Linked DNA regions of Homo sapiens. Changing the gene in region 2 together with the main gene of any one other region gives a genetic interaction. Each region holds a gene or a part of one and is shown on either strand. Other genes may lie near its edges.

Region 1 (4,385 bases), on a different chromosome or scaffold from region 2:
GGCTGGGCAATTAGTGGATTTATGCCCTTAAAGCTGAAATAATTCTCTGCTTGCTACATGATCATCAGAGGGGAAACAGGTGAACTCTTAAAGTTTTGGGCCCTATAAAGTTCTTTTGGATTTTCAGATTTATGAAAACTGTTCCTTTGCCTACTCTTCTCTTTCAAGAGAAGATGGGTGCTGAATGGTTTTGAGTCTTTATGACAGCATGAGCTTCTAGATGGCCCAGAAATAAATGATCTTTTCAGCTGTTCGAGATACACTACAGCAAAGGGTATGGGTTGAGATTAAACCTGAATATGAGGTTGTGTTATCTAATGCCCATGACCATAAACTGGATGACAGACCCTGCAATGCCCACACTAGCACTACAGGAAGCTGAACCTAATGAGGCATGTTCTGGGTTTTCAGTGATACTCCAAATTCCTTTCAACACTTTCTTTACAGCCAGACTTCTTACCTTTTAGCTTATAGCATATAGCAACCTGACAGAGCCTTTTCTTTCTCCCTAAAAAAGATCCACTTACATATGACAGCAAACTTTCATTCATGACAGACAGGGTTTTTTTATTTGGCAGGGGTGGATATCATAAATTTTGCCCAAGCTTTGGGTAACAGAATTTTCAAAAATAACAGAGGTGGGAGCTATCTTACAGTATCGTAAGTGAAAAGTGTCTGCGTTTTCTTTGGAGTTTTTAATCATATGTGCTTTTAGGCAACTCCTGCATGTACGTAGTGTGCTTTGGGCTAGCTTTTAACATTTTCACCCCCAATGAGAATTTCCTTTCTCTGAAGACCCTCTCCATCCTGAGGTGTGTGATTCAGCTCCTCTTTCTCCAGGCAGGGACTTTGGTTGTGTTTAATCCTGTGGGCTGCAGGGCAGCAGGAAGATGGTGCAGGCCTCTAGTGATGAGTTCATTTATGTAACCCTGGATAGCTGAGGGAATTGGAGAGACCTGGAAGGAGAGGGCTGAGGATGGACTCAAGCTTCTTAGTGACCCCCACTCCACCAGCCCATTCTGCACCTCCAACCCTGCAGCACCATCTCCACCGGAAGATAGAGCCAATGCCACTTGAAAATGCTCTTCATAATCCAGACCTTTCCTGGGAGTATCTGGACTCATTCACACCCTGAATTACAGTTGACCATTGAACAACTCAGGGCTTAGGGACACCAACCCCCTGCAGTCAAAACACTGCTTTTAACAAATTTTTAACTTCACCAAAACTTAACTAATAGCTTGCTGTTGACCAGAAGCTTTGCCAATACCATAAACAGTTGATTAACACATATTTTGTGTGCTTTATGTATCATCTGTATTCTTACAATAAAGTAAGCTAGAGAAAAGAAAATGTTATCAAGAAAATCATAAGACAGAGAAAATATATTTACTATTCATTGAGTGGAAGTGGATGATCATAAAGGTCTCCTTGTCATCTTCAGGTTGAGTAGGAGGTGGGGGAAGAGGAGGGGTTGATCTTGCTGTTTGAGGGGTGGCAGAGGCAGAGGAGATAGAGGAGGTAGAAAGGGAAGCAGGACAGGCAGGCACACTTGGTGTGACTTTCATTGAAAAACACTCGCATATAAGTGAACCCGCACAGTTCAAACCCCTGTCATTCAAGGGTCAAGTGTACTGCTTTCCCCCGACTGGCAGTGAACCCTGGAAGGTTTTGATCCATTCTGGGAGGAAGGGGGGTAAAACGTGCTGCCCGAAGAGGCTGGCAGATTTAAGACAGCATTAGGTGCTAGGCCTCTAGGCAACAAGAGGAGGAGTTCAGAAAGGAATGCTAAGGGATGACAGAGACAGATGTTGCTTCCTTTGTGAGTAATTCAGTTGCCAAATTAAAATGTCAGGACTAGTTTGGGAGCTTGTGATCATGAATTTCTAGTTTTACTTCATGTCCCTAGTCCGGTTTAACCCAGTTCAGCCTAGTATCTCCCCATTCAATCCCCATCCTTTCTGTCTTAACACAAGAAAAAGGAAGCAATTATTTATAGCACCAGTTCCCATTTGGGCCCTTTCACTGTGTGCCAGGGACCAAACTAGTTAAGTACACTATCTATATTTTTTAAATTGAATTTCATATTTGTACATTTCTCTGCCTCACCCTCCATTTAGACAAAATGTTCATAGATAATATCTTCATATATATATATGTATATGTAAACTTGATATTTGAAAAAATCCTTCATTTTTATCATAATCTGAGAAATAAGTGTTGAGGATAAGTTTCTTGTGATTGTGGATTAATTCTGATATTTCAAGTTGCTATGGTTTTTGACATGCAGTTTTAAGGAACTTAACTTAGAAACATGAATTATTTCCACATTCCTGGCTGTTATGGGTCAGTGAGTGGACTGTTAGACCAGATCCAGGCAGGAGTAAATGGGGGAGCACTGTAGGGGCATAAGGCACGAGGCTCCCATCTTGTTGTACTGCAGACTGCAGAGACAAACTTGATTCATTCATTGGAGAGTTCTGATATAAACTGTCACAATCTCTAACTGGTTCTGTAGCTATGGAGTAGAATATAATCATTAACATTAATAATAATGAAGACATACTGAAAGCTTTAAAGTGGTCCACCAACCAGCAACATCTGCATTACTTGGGAGCTTGTGGGAAATGCAAAAATCCCGCCACTCTGTGCCCCTGAATCAGCCCCTGTGCTTGAAAAGACTCCTAGGCAGTGCATGTGCTCTGAACATCTTGAGCACTGGCCGATGTGGTCTCTCATTTAATCCTCATGCAGCCCTTCCAGGAATTATGGTTATTATTTTCATTTTATAAAGGAGGAAGCAAGCTAAGGGTCATAGATGTTGATTCACTTGTTTGAGCCCTAACAACTGGTAAGTAACTATGCTGGGATTTGAACCCAGCCTGTCAGATTCCACAGTATGTTCTTTCAAACCCATGGCCTGTTGATTGCAAAATTCATATCAACTGTTCAAATAAAAGAATCCAATAAAGAGAAGATGATAGAACATGAAATCACATTATTACCTGTGATGCTTTCTGGAACAACTAAAGAAGAGAGAACTTGTTAAAAGACAGCATCACAAAGCAGTGACATAAGTATGCAGAGACACAAAAAAGAATGTTTCCGGTGTGTGGCAGGCTTCCGTTTTGCTGTGTGGGGCCCCCAGCCTTTGCTGGGTCTGGGATTTGGAGCAACCTCATTTGAGAAACTATATCACATAGTGGTTAAGAACAGACTCCAGAGCCACATCCCCTGGAGCAAATCTCAGCTCTGCCCAGATCTCTGGGTGCCTCAGTTTCCTCCTCAGTCAAACGGGAATGATGATAACAATGATCTCACAGGAGCATGGGTGTTAAATGAGATACTGCTTGAAAAGTGCTTCAAATATGAGCACTATATGAATATTTGCTATCATTTTGTTAGTGCAGAATGCTTTACATTTGAACAAATGCAGATCTTTATCATAAAGTCCTAGCCCCAGCCTTCAGTTTGGCTCTTGGAAGTAGCTTGTCCAGGTGCTGCACCGGGGGCCCCTCTGTTGTTTCTTCTTTTGGGGCATCCATAGACTCTGGCCAGTAGCACTTTTGCAGGTCTTCTGGGAGATACGAAATCTCAGTGCAGGCTCTTGCACTCTGGCCTACCTGGGCCCTCTTCCCTCTCACAATTAACCTAAAAAAGCCCATCCGTGTGGATGCTTTACCTTAAGATTTGCATGTTCTGTGGCCCACGTGGGATTTAACTCCACACCTTCTTCTAACTTAGTTCTGCAGACCCTTCCTATTTCTCTTTACAGAGGCATGGAAATTTTCTTTTCTTTTTTTTTTAAGACGGAGTTTTGCTCTTGTTTCCCAGGCTGGAGTGCAGTGGTGCGATCTCGGCTCACTGCAGCCTCCGCCTCCTGGGTTCAAGCGATTCTTCTGCCTCAGCCTCCTGAGTAGCTGGGATTACAGACATGTGCCACCATGCCCGGCTAATTTTTGTATTTTTAGTAGAGACAGCGTTTCACCATGTTGGCCAGGCTGGTCTCAAACTCCTGACCTCAGGTGATCCACCCGCCTCAGCCTCCCAAAGTGCTGGGATTACAGGCATGAGCCACCATGCCCGGCCAGAAATTTTCTAGTGCTAAAAAATTAGCACTAGGATTTGGGCAGCCCACTGATGGGCATAATTGCTGCCCAGGCTACAGCACATTCACAGATGAAATGAGACAACAATGAACAGAATGAAATCAACAGTTTTTCAAAAGAGATTAAATTTTATTTGGAATGGCTTGAGATGAAGGGAGTGGTCATTATACTAGGATTCCTAAAATATTATGAAGGTCATTATAGCTATAATCTACATAAATCTCTTAATTTCAGTATTCTAGAAGTAGGGTCTATATTTGGCTAGAGCCTGTGTTA
Region 2 (5,271 bases):
GACTACACAAACATTTCAGAATCTTACCCCTATCGCAGCCATACTTCCTACTTACTAAGGAATACAATTCCTACTTATTGATCACTATGCTTAGACAGCCATCCAACAGCTAGAGATGCTTCATTTTCAATTCTGCAACAAAGGTAAATTCTACTTTGACAATTTACCTTTATCAGAGGCCAGTGGGATGGTGGGTGTAAGAGCTTAACCACAACTGGTAGTCCATAGTGAAGGCGAACTGCATTCTGGGCCATCTCTGCTTCTTGGTGTCGGCTGGTCAGATGACGAAGAGCACAGATGGCAGGCTCAGTGATGTCTTCCCTGTCACCAGCCCGAAGGACAGTACGCACAAGAGCCTCTATACCACCCACTTGGCAGACCATCATCTTGTTCTTATAATTATTGCAAGTGAGGTTAGAAAGAATTCCAGCTGCACAGGTGACCACATTTATATCATCTGAACCCAGAAGCTGAACAAGAGTCCCAAGGAGACCTTCCATCCCTTCCTATGGAGATAAAAACAGATGGTCAGTACAAGCACATACTCATCTTGACTCTATTCCCATGGCACCAGTTTACTCAGAATTTACCTGTTTAGTTGCAGCATCTGAAAGATTCCTGAGAGTCCAAAGACAGTTCTGAACAAGACGTTGACTTGGATCTGTCAGGTGAAGTCCTAAAGCTTGCATTCCACCTAGAAAATTAAAAAGGATATAAGGCCCTAGTCATTAGCTAGAAGTGCCTATCAATCCTAAATATCTGTTCTAGCCTTAGGAGGTGTCCTTCTGTATTTCCAGAGTTTACTTCCTTTCACCTAAGTATTTGATTTCCTCTCATTTTCTAGAATGTTGCTCAGTTTCCTTCACTTTGCCAGTTCACCTCACTAGTGACAAACTCTCAAATAGCTACTGTTCCTTTCCTAAGCCGAAAAAGCCTTTGTTATCTCCACTGTCCCCCTTAGGTAATATTCTTATTACTCATTTCTTTTCATCCATTCAATCATTTCAAAAATATTTATTCAGTACCAGGTCCTGTTCTGAGCTGCAGATAGACCAGTGAACAAAAATATTCAGAAGTTCCTACCCTCAGAATTTATGATCTAGTTGGAAGAGGCAGAAAAATATACAATAAACTAAAACCATACAGTATGTCAGATGATATTAAAGGGCTATGGAGAAAAATAATGGAGTGGGGCTGCGATTTTAAATAGATAATTAGGTCACCTCACTGTGAAGGTGACATCTGACTAAAGACCTAAAGAAGCTAGGTAAATTCCTGGGGTAAGAACAATCCAGAAAGACGGCATGAAAACACTTACTGTCAGGGACTTTATACAATTCACTGACTACAAAACATGTGTTCCAAGGTTTACAATCTTCCATCCTTTAGGACCCTTAAATGGGGGACATTTACTCTGGCAAAGGAGTATAAATGGAAGCCCAATGCCCACATAGTAGATTAACTTCGCTCATCCATCTTCAACTTAAATCACTTCTGAATGCAGTAAGAGATACTTTTCCTTGTCTCCTTCATCTTTCGGGTCTGTTTTATTTCCTCAGATGAGGTCTATCTGCTGTAATTCTTATGGTACCCTGCACTTCTCCTTCATAGTGTAAGTTACTCCACTTTCCCTACAAGACAAAGATCACCTCTGTTGGGTTCCTTTTTCATAGTAGCTCCAGCTACTAATAGAATGATCTGCGTAAGACTGATGATCAGGATGCTCAGTATTTGTGAAATGACTACCTTCTTTCCCCTCTTTAAGACTTCATTCCCTCCCTTTACATAACTATTAACTCTAAGAGAATGGATTTTAACCCCAGATGTCCATCAGAATGGCCTACAGAGACTTTAAAACACACACATTCTGATTCAGCAGTTCTAGGGTAAAAAAAAAAGTCCCATACAGATGACTCTGTGGCACCTCTACCTCCCCTTCCCTGCTGCCCTTACCCCTATATACTAAGAGGGAAACTTCCAAATCTCTAGCCTGCCTCTCTTGCATTCTAGTATCATACATTTCCAGCTACCTACTGACCTTTTAAGTCACTTTAAGTCAGCTTCTTAAATTATTATGTTCAAAAATTAAGGATGCCTTCTGAGGGTTCCATTTATCTTCATGGTACCAATGTTGTCCCCTCCACAAACCGTTTTTGGTTGCTCCCTTAGCTCCTATATTATTACATTCTATGATTCTTTCAGGCATCTCAGACATCTGCCCTTTGCTATTGAGTTCTAAAAGCAAACTATTTCATTCCTAAAAGCCTGTAACATCTCAGTAGTCTGGTCTTCTAGCTTTTGGTCATTCAAACTGTTAATCTATACAATGCTATTATTAATATTTTAAACACACCACTGTGATGCTTTGCTATTGATAAACAACCATCGAAAGTGTCTCAGCATCCTTTTAAGATAATAGAAATACTTTAGTATAACCCTGAGGAACCGTTTAGAATTTGGATCCCACCTAGCCTTCCAAACTGACCAAAGTATTCTGTATCTATGGCTCCAAAGCTGGAATAAAGCATGAATAAACTCCATGAGTAGTAACTATCTTATAGGAACCTAGAAAGTCCTGCATGTTATGGCTCTGCTTACCTAACCTCAACCTCATACCAGGCCATCCACCTCATTACTAAGTTCTGTTTATGCAGACCTTCTCTTCAGCACCTGGATCTCCACAATCTCTTTCCCTTTTTTTTTTTTTTGAGATAGAGTCTCACTCTGTCGCCCAGGCTGAAGTGCAGTGGCGCTATCTCAGCTCACTGCAAGCTCCGCCTCCCGGGTTCACACCATTCTCCTGCCTCAGCCTCCCAAGTAGCTGGGACTACAGGCGCCTGCCACCACGCCCGGCTAACTTTTTGTATTTTTAGTAGAGATGGGGTTTCACTGTGTTAGCCAGGCTGGTCTCGATCTCCTGACCTCATGATCCGCCCACCTCAGCCTCCCAAAGTGCTGGAATTACAGGCGTGAGCCACCGTGCCTGACCAATCTCTTTCCTTCTAAGGCAAGCTTGTCCAACCTGCAGCCCATGGGCCACATGGCCTAGGACAGCTCTGAATGTAGCCCAACACAAATTCGTAAACTTTCTTAAACATTATGAGATTCTTTTGCAATTTTTTTTTGTTTTAGCTCATCAGCTATCATTAGTGTATTTGGTGTGTAGCCCAAGACAATTATTCTTCTTCCAATGTGGCCCAGGGAAGCCAAAAGACTGGATATCCCTGGTTCTAAGACATAGCACATGGTGTTCCTTTTCTCTACCTGGAAAACGTTTAACCCTCACTTCTCATATAGACAAGAGACGGTTCCCTCTCATCCTGCAGTCCCACTTAACATCCCCTTTTCAAGGAGACCTTTTCCCTCTCATCTAGACAATTCCCCTCCCCATTAATTCTCATCACTATTTGCTGTCATTTCTCCCATAACACTCATTCTAATTTAGGATCACATATTTTTAAGTATTTTTGTCACCTTCACAAGACTAAGAATTAAGCACGGGGACCCTATCTGTTGTGTTACCCAATGTATACTATGTGCCTATTCCATTTCTTAAAATACATTAGATGCTATTTTCAGAATAAACAAATGAACATAAGAATAACCTGGAAGAACTTAAAGATTCCTAAGCTTCCAGTCCCATACATGTCCAGCTATCTACAGACCTCCCTGTCACTTCAAATAAAACACTATGAGATCTTGATATAAAAATTAACACTCCAGGGATTCTGATTAAATAAATCTCAAAATCTGTATTTTTAGCCTACATTACAGGTTACTGCTGGAACAGCTGACAGAATTTACATCCCATCCCCTCATTCTATATGAACTCAGCCACATTTGTCTATCCCCAAGACTATGGTTCCTCTGCCAGTAGTTACCTGGAGCAATCATAATGTCTTTCTCTCTCATAAATTCCCAAGTAAAATTACTCTCAATAAGTGAGAAAAGTAAGTGTTGCCAGCCCTATACTTTATTCCCAACATTTTCTTCCATTAAATGCCTTTATATTTTTCCTTCTTTCAATACTGATTTGAAGCTTGCTTTGAAATTCTGAGTAAATGTTGTTAGGTGGGTTACTGAAAGGAGAAAAAATGCTTGGTAGCTAAAAAGTAACTGTTTTCATGACACACACACACACACACACACACACACACAGAACCCAAGAGGCCCTAGTACAAACCATCTATTCTTTTCCCCAATTGCCAACATACACAATATACAAAGTACCACATATAAGTTGCCTTCTTAAAAATACTCAGAATAGAAAAAAATTGTTTCTCATACTTAGACGACATCTATTCACTGAGAATACAGAATATCAGGGCAAAACACTGCTCATAATCAGGCAAGAGAAAGAAAATGCATCCAAATAGGAAGTCTGTTTGCAAACAATATGATTCTATACCTAGAAAACCCCATAATCTCTGCCCAAAAGCTCCTTGATCCAATAAACTTCAGCAAAGTTTCAGGATATAAAAATCAATGTACAAAAGTCAGAAGCATTTCTAGACACCAACAACATCCAAGCTGCAAGCCAAATCAAGAATGCAATCCCATTTACCAAAGCCACAAAAAGAATAAAATACCTAGGAATACAACTAACCAGGGAGGTGAAAGATCTCTACAATGAGAATTACAAAAAACACTGCTCAAAGAAATCAGAGATGACACCAACAAATGAAAAAACATTCTATTTCATGGCAGGAAGAATCAATATTGTTAAAATGGCCATACAGCCCAAAGCAATTCACAGATTCAATGCTATTCCTACCAAACTACCAATGGCATTCTTCACATAATTAAAAAAAAACTATTTAAAAATTCATATGAACCCAAAAAAGAGCCTGAATAGCCAAGGCAATCCTAAGCAAAAAGAACAAAACTGGAGGAATCACTTTACCCAACTTCAAGCTATACTGTTAATACAAGGTTACAATCACAGCATGGTACTGGTATACAAACAGACACAGAGACCAATGGAACAGAAAAGAAAGCCCAGAAGTTAGGCCGCACACCTAACAAGTAAACAAAAACAAGCAATGGGGAAAGGACTCCCTATTCAATAAATGGTGCTGGGATAACTGGCTAGCCACATCCAAGATTGAAACTGCACCCCATCCTTACATGATGTACAAAAATCAACTCAGAATGGATTAAAGACTTAAATATAAAACTTAAAACTGTAAAAACTCTGCAAGATAACCTAGGAAATACCATTCTGGACATAAGACCTGGCAAAGATTTCATGACGAAGATGCCAAGAGAAGT
Region 3 (4,385 bases), on a different chromosome or scaffold from region 2:
TTGTTTACTCTAATTCATCTTCCAAAGTCTTTTTTCTAAGCCACACATAATTTGCTTGAAACCCTAACATCGAGGAAAAAATTTTCAGGCTAGTGCTATTTGATATTTTTTTCTTAAAAAAGTCTTTGGTGCAAATTGAATGTGCAGACAAGGAAAATAATTTGACTTCCTGGTATACATTTTGAATTTCCAGCCTAGATGAAGGCCAATGAAGGCAAATAGTAAAGCTCTCACTTAAAAATAAATAAGTAAAGTGGATTTTAATAGCAGAACCTTCAAATATTTGGCAGGAATCAGAGGGAACCAGTTATATGAAGCCTTGGTTTACAATATATTATGTCTTTTGCCAGTGGAGTTTTTTTCTTAGGATAGAGAACAACCTGTCTGAGCAAACATCTTGTCTGGGAGAATCAGAATATTTAACTCCATTTATTCAATAGAAAGTGTCAGCTGAAGGTATCTGTATTTTGACTCCCTTGAAATTCACAGATACATTTGCTGGGTGTTTATACCATCTACCTAGGCACCTTTAGGCAAAACCTGGTATGAGAAAGGGGTCTTTGAGCCCCAAATCAAATGAAGTCAAGTTTTCCAGTAGGATATTTGTTCCGACTCCCTCTCCTGCCCTATTCCTTAAAGCAAACACCATTCCTTTGTACTCCTTGAAATTAGAGGCCTCACTAGTATTGTCAGGGTGGCCTGAAGGAGGATAATGCATTTCTGTATATTTAGACACAGTGCAGTTTTCTCTGAAATTGAAATTTTGCTTATGAGGGGGTCATTTGTATTGTGTCTCCCACCTTTTAAAATGCACTACACTTCTCCACAGTCTGGGGCGGGGGGAAAGAGGGACCAGATAATTTTCATACTAAATCAGTCAGCTGGATGCAACCTTTTTAATTAAATGGAGCTTAGACAGCCCTGAAGCTAATGAAAATCTCTAGTACAACATTACCCTTATCAGATTTTAATTTTACACATTGGAGTAGAGAAATGATGCAGCATAGGCAGGTTATGAAAAGAAAATCAGCATCACAGTATTGGAATAGCAATGCAAACAGCTGTAGGAAGGTGCCGTTCACAAGGATGCACACCATTCCTATCAGGAGGCCCCGTGGGCCCTTCCTGCACTCTGGCAGAGAGGAGAGATTTCTGAAGCTGTTTAAGTTTCTTTAAATTAATCGGCAGTCATCATTGGATTTGGAGCACAGTAGCCATAAGAATGTACACTGTGTAGTGCTCTCTCAGCATGGGGTTTTGCTTGCTAAATTCTGGTATCAGCGAATCGGAAATGCATACCAGACCCTTTTAAAATGTTAGCATCTTTAGTAATCTCTTTTATTTTTCTTTAATTGGCCCTATATACAATTCATAAATAATTCAAGTGTTTTCAACTCATGGAATATTAAATTTTTTAACCTGCCAAGGCAATTTGAGTTTAATTTATACACTAAAATATATGGACTAAGCACAAATTTTTTGCCTTTATTGTGGAAAACCTGATGTCGTTTGTGTTGCAGGGATAGGAAACTGATAGGAAGTTTAAGTAATTCTAGCTTCCACTTCTGACTCCATCGTCTACGTTTACTGAAAGTTGTTCACTGTCTTTCTTATCAAGCAGGTGTTTCCGTTATATTGCACATTAAAATCAGACTTGGATTTCCAAGAGGAAATAAATTTTGGCTCCTAAACATAATTAAATCATAGTAAAGAAGAAAAACAAACAAAAAATTATTATTGTGTTTACAATTCTCAAATTTTTGACTAGTGGAGTTTTACATAGTTTTACCCTTTCTCCACAAGAAAGTTCTGATTGTTTTTTCAAGATCTCTGATGCCTGAACAGTGTGTCTCTCAACACACTTCCCAAATTTCCAGATTGTGTTAGCAGTAAAGCATATACCACAGAGTTTTCAGGCCAGTGTGGAAATGAATATCTCAACTTGGGATAAGAGATTAGCTATGCCTTTCACTGATAAATAGCAGCATTAAAGAAGCTGACAGAAATGAGTTTTCAGTGAGGTTAGAAATTTTTCCCACTGAGGGTTTTCAGGAGACATAATTGGATTGAAGGAAACTGACGTTTTGGAAAGGAAAATGTGACCAGAGTCACTAGACTCGACACATTCAGTACCAGGAGGACCTTCCATTTGAGAGCTCCAGGGCAACCTGGAACCACTGTGGTCTGCTCTCTCGAACATCCTGAACAGAGTAAGAGGCTGCAATTAGAGAAAGAAGAAAGAAAAGTAACTTCTGTGGCCATATATCTCTTGAGACTGCAGTAGTGACGTCACCATGGAATGATACAAGAACCATAATATTTTAAATGTGTTGTTTTCTTATCCATAACAAGGGACTTAGACATACCCATAGGAAGAGGCGGTATGTCTGGTGGTTGAAGCGGGGACTTTAGGATCACGTGTCCAGAGCTTCACCTCTGACTCCACCACGTGGGGTCTTAAGCAAGTTACCCAACTTTTCTATACCTCAGTTGCTTCATCTGTAAAATGGGGGTCATAATAATACTTGCCTCAAAGGAATATTGTGAACATTGTCTGAGCTAATCCATGAAAAAGCACCTAGCACAGTGCCTAGTATATAATAAGTAATCAGTGAAAGTAGGCTACAATTATTGGCTTTATTAAATGAGAGAATGTCTATAAGTGCTCTTTGCAAAATGACAGGACATGCCAAAAATGTAACATCTTATTATTAAACTTTGGAAATACTTGCCTATCAAGTACACCACTGTAAAACAGAAAACATTTGGAGTGTACATTCAAAATAGGCAGCAGCTCTCTTCTCTGGCCTACATTATTTGTTCAACACCTTTTGCATTCATCATCCATGGCATACAGTTTTGTGCATTATCTTATATCATTTTTGTCTCTTAATTATTTTATATGTATGAAGATTTAATCCCCAGTAGTAATTCAAAGTCAAGGTAAATGGTATGACCTTTAACCTGCCTGTAGCAATTGGCACAGTCTGAGAAAGCAATAGCTGGTAAATAATATCTTCCTTATTGACTTATTAATTGTGCTGTACAGTCCTAACAAATGCCCAGTAATTTTCAAAGCTCTCAATGAAGAAGCGGGTCAAAAGGTGGGTGTAGAATCCCGAAGTGCATTCACCGTACCCTGGCTTCATTTGAAACACAGATGGTACTTTGTGAAAAGTACGCTAAAGTGTCGGTGGTTGTAAATTGGCCAAACACAGTAATAACTGCGTCTTGCTGAAATGTCTTCTTGTACACCCAAAGTAGAATGAGGATGGTGAGAGAGAATCCATTAGGGACATCTCCTGCAATAAATACTCTTTTGTCTCAAGGAAAATGCTGCTGCAGTGTTCACATGGACACTCTGGCTGATATTCCCGTTCATTCATGCATTTGTTTATTCATTCATTCATGTATTAGTCATTATATACCAGGCACTGTTCTAGTTGCTAGGATATATTTAGTGAGCAAGACAGGCAAAGTATATCCCTACTCTTATAGAATTCACATTCTAGTACAGACAGACAAACATTAAAAATATATTAAATAAATAAAGCTGTTTCAGACAGCAATAAGTACCATGAAGAATGTAAAACAGTAATGAGATAGCATGGGGAGGGCAGCTCCTTCAGCCAGGGAGATCAGCAACAACTTCTCTGAGGAGGTGGCACCTCGGGTGAGACCTGAATGATGAGAAGGAGGCAGTCATACAAACAACTGGGGAAAGAACAGCAAGTGCAAAGGCCTTGAGGCAGGAAGGAACCTGACTTGTTCTAAGAGTAGACATAAGATCAGTGTGGCTAAAATATACAAATGATGGGTAGAGTGATATGGATGAAACTAGAGAGATAGGCAGGGGCTGCCTTTGATTCTCTTTGTAATAGTTAGCTATTCAGGCCCGGCGCAGTGGCTCATGCCTGTAATCCCAGCACTTTGGGAGGCCGAGGCAGGCGGATCACCTGAGGTCGGGAGTTTGAGACCAGCCTGGCTAACATGGCAAAACCCCATCTCTACCAAAAATACAAAAATTAGCTGGGCGTGGTGGTGGGCACCTATAATCCCAGCTACTGGGTAGGGTGAGGTGAGAGAATCACTTGAACCTGAGAGGCAGAGTTTGCAGTGAGCTGAGATTGCACCATTGCACTCCATCCTGAGTGACAAGAGTGAAACTCTGTCTCAAAAGAAAAAAAAAGTAACCTATTCAAACAGGAGTGGCATGATCTAACTTATATATTTAGAAGGCCACCCTAGCTATGTTGTGGAAGGTAGGTATGCAGGAGATGAGTTGGGAAGCCATGTCTGAAGGTGTTACAGTGGCCTAGATGAAGGAGGTGGCAGCTTGAAGTAGGAAAGTGGAGAGAGAGGGGGAATCCAAACCACAAACAGGG

The links. A genetic interaction does not mean that the proteins touch.
Region 1: of CTNNB1 (region 2) and KCTD1, changing one suppresses a phenotype caused by changing the other (phenotypic suppression), as found in Homo sapiens cells (one study listed by BioGRID).
Region 3: of CTNNB1 (region 2) and GRIP1, changing one enhances a phenotype caused by changing the other (phenotypic enhancement), as found in Homo sapiens cells (one study listed by BioGRID).

What each region holds. Positions count from the first base shown.
Region 1 is NC_000018.10:26,537,669-26,542,053, reverse strand, and holds part of KCTD1 (BTB/POZ domain-containing protein KCTD1), read left to right. Parts: intron 1-4,385. UniProt on the Homo sapiens protein: May repress the transcriptional activity of AP-2 family members, including TFAP2A, TFAP2B and TFAP2C to various extent.
Region 2 is NC_000003.12:41,228,764-41,234,034, reverse strand, and holds part of CTNNB1 (catenin beta-1), read right to left. Parts: intron 695-5,271; coding exon 591-694; intron 507-590; coding exon 168-506; intron 1-167. UniProt on the Homo sapiens protein: Key downstream component of the canonical Wnt signaling pathway.
Region 3 is NC_000012.12:66,458,192-66,462,576, reverse strand, and holds part of GRIP1 (glutamate receptor-interacting protein 1), read left to right. Parts: intron 1-4,385. UniProt on the Homo sapiens protein: May play a role as a localized scaffold for the assembly of a multiprotein signaling complex and as mediator of the trafficking of its binding partners at specific subcellular location in neurons.